2 linked regions of the Homo sapiens genome follow. The protein of the gene in region 1 purifies or fractionates together with the protein of each later gene. This does not show direct contact. Each region holds a gene or a part of one and is shown on either strand. Other genes may lie near its edges.

Evidence for each region.
Region 2: the proteins of PTDSS1 (region 1) and CTBS purify together in Homo sapiens (affinity purification with mass spectrometry; one large-scale study listed by BioGRID and IntAct). This does not show direct contact.

Annotation. Positions count from the first base shown.
Region 1 is NC_000008.11:96,303,402-96,306,901, forward strand, and holds part of PTDSS1 (phosphatidylserine synthase 1), read left to right. Parts: intron 1-638; coding exon 639-780; intron 781-3,042; coding exon 3,043-3,155; intron 3,156-3,500. UniProt on the Homo sapiens protein: Catalyzes a base-exchange reaction in which the polar head group of phosphatidylethanolamine (PE) or phosphatidylcholine (PC) is replaced by L-serine. Catalyzes mainly the conversion of phosphatidylcholine.
Region 2 is NC_000001.11:84,560,941-84,564,440, forward strand, and holds part of CTBS (di-N-acetylchitobiase precursor), read right to left. Parts: intron 2,893-3,500; coding exon 2,795-2,892; intron 2,479-2,794; coding exon 2,317-2,478; intron 1-2,316. UniProt on the Homo sapiens protein: Involved in the degradation of asparagine-linked glycoproteins. Hydrolyze of N-acetyl-beta-D-glucosamine (1-4)N-acetylglucosamine chitobiose core from the reducing end of the bond, it requires prior cleavage by glycosylasparaginase.

The DNA.
Region 1 (3,500 bases):
CAATGTTGGAGACGTAAAAGTTCATGATATAAATATTTGTGGAATTAAAGACTCTTTACCAGTTATTAAATAGTATTTATTATACCTTGGGTTTTGGCTCTCCTGGACTAGTACAGGGAGGGCTGGAATCTGCACCCACTCCTCATGCTGAGTGTGCCAGCCACTTGCTGTCTCTGGGCCTTAATGTCTGCATTTGTAAACTGTAGGACTGTTTAGTTCTTTCATGGGTGTGTGAAACTTTTAATTGAGTGATTTCGAGGATGCAAATGAAGAAAGGTTAAATATCACTGTTCATCAACCCAAAATGTTTACTGCTCTGGGGAAGAAATAGGGTAAAGAAGTGTTGTGGGTGATGCAAGAATATGGAGTGTGTGCAGTTTTACGTGGGAGACAAGCAGTGGGAGAACAGTCTCCTTGCTGCCCTGTGCCTGTCATCAATGAGATTCCTCATTGAGTGTGCTTCTGTCACCTGCTTTACCTGTATAGAGAGACCTTTGAGACACAATTCAAATAAAAAGCAGTCTCTTTGTCCTGAGCATTTATTATAAAAATCATCAGTGCACAGGATTTTTTTCTTGTGCTTTGTTTTCCCCCTGCCTTATCTCTGGATTTTCACTGGAGCCATTCTCTTCTTACAGGGACATTCATACCACCACCGGGAAGATCAAGAGAGCTGTTCTGCAGTTCACTCCTGCTAGCTGGACCTATGTTCGATGGTTTGACCCCAAATCTTCTTTTCAGAGAGTAGCTGGAGTGTACCTTTTCATGATCATCTGGCAGGTATTTTTTCAGATGCCCAGAAGTTGGGAGGAAAACAAAAACTAAAATAAAAACTTTTTAGGAATTTAGAGTTAACATTAGTTTACATTGCTTTTCAGCTCCATACTTTACAAGATATAATATTCTGCAGCTGGCATGTAGAATAATTAAGCAAAGTGATGTTGTTATGCCTAAGGTCTTGCCTCATTTTGAAGACAGTTTTAAAATATGGATCTTTGAATTACAAATTAGAAACAGATTAGATTCCGTGAAATAATTTGTGTCTAGCATCCATCATCCAATGAGTTAGGCATTGGATTGCTTTTTAGAATGATCATTTTCAAGACCAAAGGAACAAATGAGAAGGCTTTTCTTACATTCCTAATTCAGTGTTTATTGGTTAAAATTGTTCCTCAGCTGTTACCACTTTGGTTAATCTGTAGGGTGCTAAATGAGTGCTGGGGAATTGGAGCCTTTTGCTGAGTCCTCCAGAGTGTTGTCCTCCGTGGAGAGAAGCTGTATTTCCAAGTGGCCCACTTCACGACGGAAGTGATTCTGACAGCCCAGGGTCTTGGCAAAAGATTATCAAGCATCTGTGTTTCTGAGAGACAGCAATTTTTTCTGATGCTCCTGGCCCCAGGTTGTTTCACAACTTTTGGAAAGTAGCCAAGGGAAACCAGCTTTTGCCTGAAGAGGATCTTTCAGAGTCATCAGAAATTATGTTTTGGACACATAAACACAAAATACTCCCAACATAAGGAAAAAATTAGCAGATGTCACTTTTAGGACAGATGATCTTCCTTGTTCACACAGAGACAATGCCCATCGCAATAAATGAAGTTTATGCATACAGAAGTGTACGTGAATAGTTAAGTAAGTAATCACTGTGGTTTGGAGAGGTCAGTATCTTTAAAAACAGGACTGTAGATGGATTGGGATTAAGCTTTGCCTTATCAGGCCCAATGTCACGGAAAGCAGAAGCTTTCTTTTATTACAAGGAGGAATGATTGGATGTGTCAAGGAGAGTAGTATAGTGCCGTTAGGATGGAACCACCTGGTGGTATGCGATGGAGCACACTGTTCCCATGAGTGTGAGCACTGCGCTGGGATCAGCTTTCCATATGTGATATTAATTAGACTATTTTTTATTTTGTGTCCTTGAAGTCAGTGCTATGGGAAAACAACATGCATTTTGTGGAATTGTAATGAACCTGCCAGTCTATGTACTGTGTTCTCCTAGCACAGTGACCGTTCCATAATCTCCACCCCTTGTTTGCTACCTGGAGCTGGGCTCTAGGCAGAGAGCAGCCACGTCCCAGCCACAAGATATTTTGTGCTACTCATCATGATGAACTGCATGAGGATGCTAACCTCAGGGAAAAGTACTACTGCTCCCAGCTGAAACTTGGACCAACCCTTCATACCTACTTTTAAGGACTGCCTTTGGTAGAGGATCTGCTCTGTCCCAGGCGTGTGCTGCACGAGTCCATCGTCATCTCTCAGATGTGTCTCCAGCTTCTTTTTTTGCTTTTTTTTTGAGATGGAGTTTTACTCTTGTCACCCAAGTTGGAGTGCAATGGCGTGATCTCGGCCCACTGCAACCTGCAACCTCTGCCTTCCAGGTTCAAGCAATTCTCCTGTCTCAGCCTCCTGAGTAGCTGGGATTACAGGCGCCCACCACCATGCCTGTTTGTATTTTTAGTAGAGATGAGATTTCACCATGTTGGCCAGGCTGGTCTCAAACAACTTACCTCAGGCGATCTGCCCGCCTCGGGCTTCCAAAGTGCTGGGGTTACAGGCATGAGCCACCGTGCATGGCCTCAAGCCTCTTTTGATTGTTAAAGAGCTTACTTATCTACATTTGGAATTCTGTTAGACCTGGCCTGATTTCTGTAAGGCAGCATAGGTGTTCTGTGGCACAGGTTTGCTTTCATGACTTCTGTATGCTCAAAGCATTTCTCTCCCGACTATCCCAGTGGATCACATGTGTGAGCTGAGTAACAATCATACAAACCAGGAAACATGACAAATAGCTGATAATCCTGTTCCCCTATGTGCCCATCCACCACCCCTGCCACCTCTCCCTGGGCCTCCAGTTGCTCCCTGCCCATAATGTACTGGCTGTTAACTAGTTTGAATAGCAATCCTTGGAAGACCACATCTATTCTCTGAAAATGCTTTGAACATACCAATTATTTCTAATTGTAGAATGTCTATTTAAGGAATAGAGGATTTTGAATTAGCATGAGGTACCAGGTTGACTAATTTCTCCGTCTTTTTCAGCTGACTGAGTTGAATACCTTCTTCTTGAAGCATATCTTTGTGTTCCAAGCCAGTCATCCATTAAGTTGGGGTAGAATTCTCTTTATTGGTGGCATCACAGCTCCCACAGTGAGGTAATTCTGCACAAGCCTGACTGTCATATGAGAACATTAACTTGCTTTAGATTGTCCTGTTTAGCATAAGGAAAGTCATATAAACTAGCAGATTTTCCATGAAAATACCATCGTAAAGAATTGTACATCCAGAATATGACGAAAATGTTTTGTTCTCAGATGTCAGTAACATTAACCAGACATTTAAAAAGAGAAGCACTTGATGAACACCACACCAATAGTACTATCCATTATTATCAGATTCCTTTACAGTCTTGGACTGCCGATCTTTTTTTCTCCTATAACATCATATTAGAAAAAAATAACAGCATAGTGATGCTGAGTTTTTTAAAAATGAGATTACTG
Region 2 (3,500 bases), on another chromosome or scaffold:
CTCTGATGGAGAACACAAGATGAATGTTATTTTCATGCCTGCTAACACAACATCCATTCTGCAGCCCATGGAACAAGGAGTAATTTCAACTTTTAACTCTTATTAATTAAGAAATAGATTTTGTAAGGCTGTAGCAGCCAAAGACAGTAACTCCTTTCATGGATCTGGCCAAAGTAAACTGAAAGCTTTTTGGAAAGGATTCACCATTCTAGATGCCATTAAGAACATTCATGATTCATGCATGGGAGGAGGTCAAAATATCAACATTAACAGGAGTTTGGAAGAAGTGGGTTACAACCCTCATGGATGACATTGAGGGGTTCAAGACTTCAGTGAAGGAAGTAACTGCAGAGGTAGTGGAAACAGCAAGAGAATTAGAATTGGAGGTGAATCCTAAATATGTGACTCAATTGCTACAATCTCGTGATAAAATTTGAATAGATGAGGAGCTACTTCTTATGAATACGCAAAGAAAGTAGTTTCTTGAGAATGGAATCTATTCCTGGTAAAATGCTGTGAACATTGTTCAAATAACAGCAAAGGATTTAGAATATTCTATAAACTTATTAATAAAGCAGCAGCAGAGTTTGATGGGGTTGACTCCAATTTTGAAAGAAGTTCTACTGTGGGTAAAATGCAATCAAATAGCATCACGTTTTACACAGAAATCTTTCGTGAAAGGAAGAGTCAATTGACGTGGCAAACTTCACTGTTGTCTTATTTTAAGAAATTGCCATAGCCACCCCAACCTTCAGCAACCACCACCCTGATCAGTCAGCAGCCATCAATGACAAGGCAAGACACTCTTCCAGCAAGCAGGTTATAACTTGATAAAGGCTCAGATGATCGTTATCATTTTTTTAGCAATAAAGTATTTTTAAATTAAGGTATGTACTTTTTTTAGACATAATGCTATTACACACTTAACAGACTACAGTATAGTATAAACATAACTTTTATATGCACAGGGAAACAAAAAATTCATGTCACTTGCTTTATTGCTATATTTACTTTATTGTGGTGGTCTAGAACTGACTCTGCAATATCTCTAAGGTATGCCTGTATATGTAATTGGTTACCATAACTTTTAACAAACCATATCCATGAAACAGTTTCTAAGAACTGCATGTTTCTAAGAATGCTGTGAAACAAGATTATATGTCAAACAATTAAACTACCTTATGTATTACAGCACTTCTCAAACCCATTAATATAATTGTTGTTACAAATCTCCAAGAGGGGCGTACAGTATATAGTGTTTTTCTAAATATATTTGGCCATGGCACACGTGTGTATATTTTGCACACATGTGCATCTGTGTGTGTAATATTAACAGTTCCCAGGACAGACTAATATAAACACTGTTTAGGAAAGATAAGATTACAATACACTCTAGTTTCACTAATAGGTATATACTTTCAGTTCCAAAGTTTAGAAAGCTCTACACTAAAGCTCTCTGTGGAGGCATACACATGTATATCAATTATAATTTATGACATGTAGTGTGTTTGCAGTCATTTTTTTATAAATGGGTACCAGACCATTAATTAAGCATATAAATCCTTGCTGAACTTCACTTATATCATTTTAGTACTCCTTTTAAAGTAACATAATCTGAAATAAATTCAAAGAGGATTTGTACTTAGATTTTTGAGCTGTGGAAGAGCCTTTATAATGCTAAAGGTAAATTATGAAAACTGTAACTTTTCTTTGCCATTTTGGTATAGCAATTCCTATTAAACACTACTTGACAGAATTGCTAATCACTTAGTGTATTTCTTCAGGTTTCCTTTATGTAATATTTTTGTAAGTTTTGACATTGCTTTATAATTTAATTATAAAATAAATTGAAAATGATAGTTTTTCCATTGTAAAGTCGATTATGACACCTCTTCTGTTCTCAGCCTCATTCCTCCCTATGTAAGTCTCATCAGAATCTGTAGGCCACTTTGAAATGGAGGCTTTCAGAGATAGTAACTTATTTTGGCCCAAAACCCATTCAAAATCAACAGTCATCCTAACATAATTGTCAACTGTTACAGAAATCCTGTTTGTGATATGCACATTTTTATGGCATCATCTAAATGACAAGTGGCCCAAGCAGAGTAGATTCACCATTAGCAAAACTCCAATTGCTCGCCAGGGAACTAAAGTTCCTGATTACAGATTCAAAGACAAGTTTACTCATGTAAATAGCAGTCTGCATGTTATGCCCTAAAAGAAAACTGATAGAAATTCTTGATATCAAACATCTAATTATGAAAATAATTACAAAAACTAATAGAATAAATGCTCATAACTTACGAAAAGTCTTACTTTATAGTTATAATAAGGAGCCCGCTGATCTTTATCCCATAGGTTTCCAGAAATAGAACTATTTATTTGCTTCATGATCGTTTTGTAGGGCACCTGACGTCCTGCAGCGTCACTACAAGGAGCCCCCCGGAAAGGGACTTTTGCAATGGTACAAACATGATCCTAGAAATGCAAAAGTGCTCATGTTATATATTATCAATTATGCAATTCTTAAAAGCCAAACCAAAAATATATAAATTATTTAGAAATAAAACATATACCATAGAAAACCTGACTATACAGAAAAAAGGTTAAAATAAATTTCATTATTAAATGAAAATGTATGATAATCATAAGCTTTCATAGAAGTAAAAATAAATAATTTTTATCTCAAACTATATTTCAGAGATTCTAAAGTTTATATATTTCTAATGAAAACAGAGAGACTCTAAAAAATATAATAGATAATAAAAATTATGTAACAAATGACTGTTCCTACCTCAGACAGATTCAGGCAGGTATAATCATAACCATACCAAGGAACACCCATTACAAGTTTCTTAGGATTAATGCTCATCTTGATGTAGTCATTATATCCTAGTCAAGCAGGAGAGAAAAAGCATATTTGTTTCTCTTCATATGTCAATGTGTTCATACAAGCTATGCAACCGTTCAGAATCTGTTTGTAAAAACAAGTACATTTATAAAAAACACTAATATTGTTTAATATGTTATAAAACATCCCTTAAGAACCATAAATTCTATATCTTGCTTTCTAAACCATTTCTCTTTGAATAGGAGAAAACATTCAAAACAATTAAGATCATACTGAAATAAAATATTCACAAAATCTAATTCTAGGAAGAATGACACATTTCAGGAAAGTATGCTAATTATATCTATTAATTCTAAGATATGATATACTTGATACTCTAGATTCTAAAGTTTCAAAAAAGTTTTATAAATCTTAACTTTCTAGCAGTGATGGTCTCAGAGTTTCTTAGAAAGTACAAGTGTTCCATGTTTTGCAAATATTCTGTAAGTAAGCTGGGGATAAGAAATGTGTCATCTATAGTGGGAGGAAACAAAGAGAAAAATGAACAAATCCCTGGAACTATCAGTCCTTTTCTTGCCCAATGCTGCAAAACATGTTTTTCCACCAAGACATATTCACAGATTACCTAGAATGTTCAGCTAAAAAACTT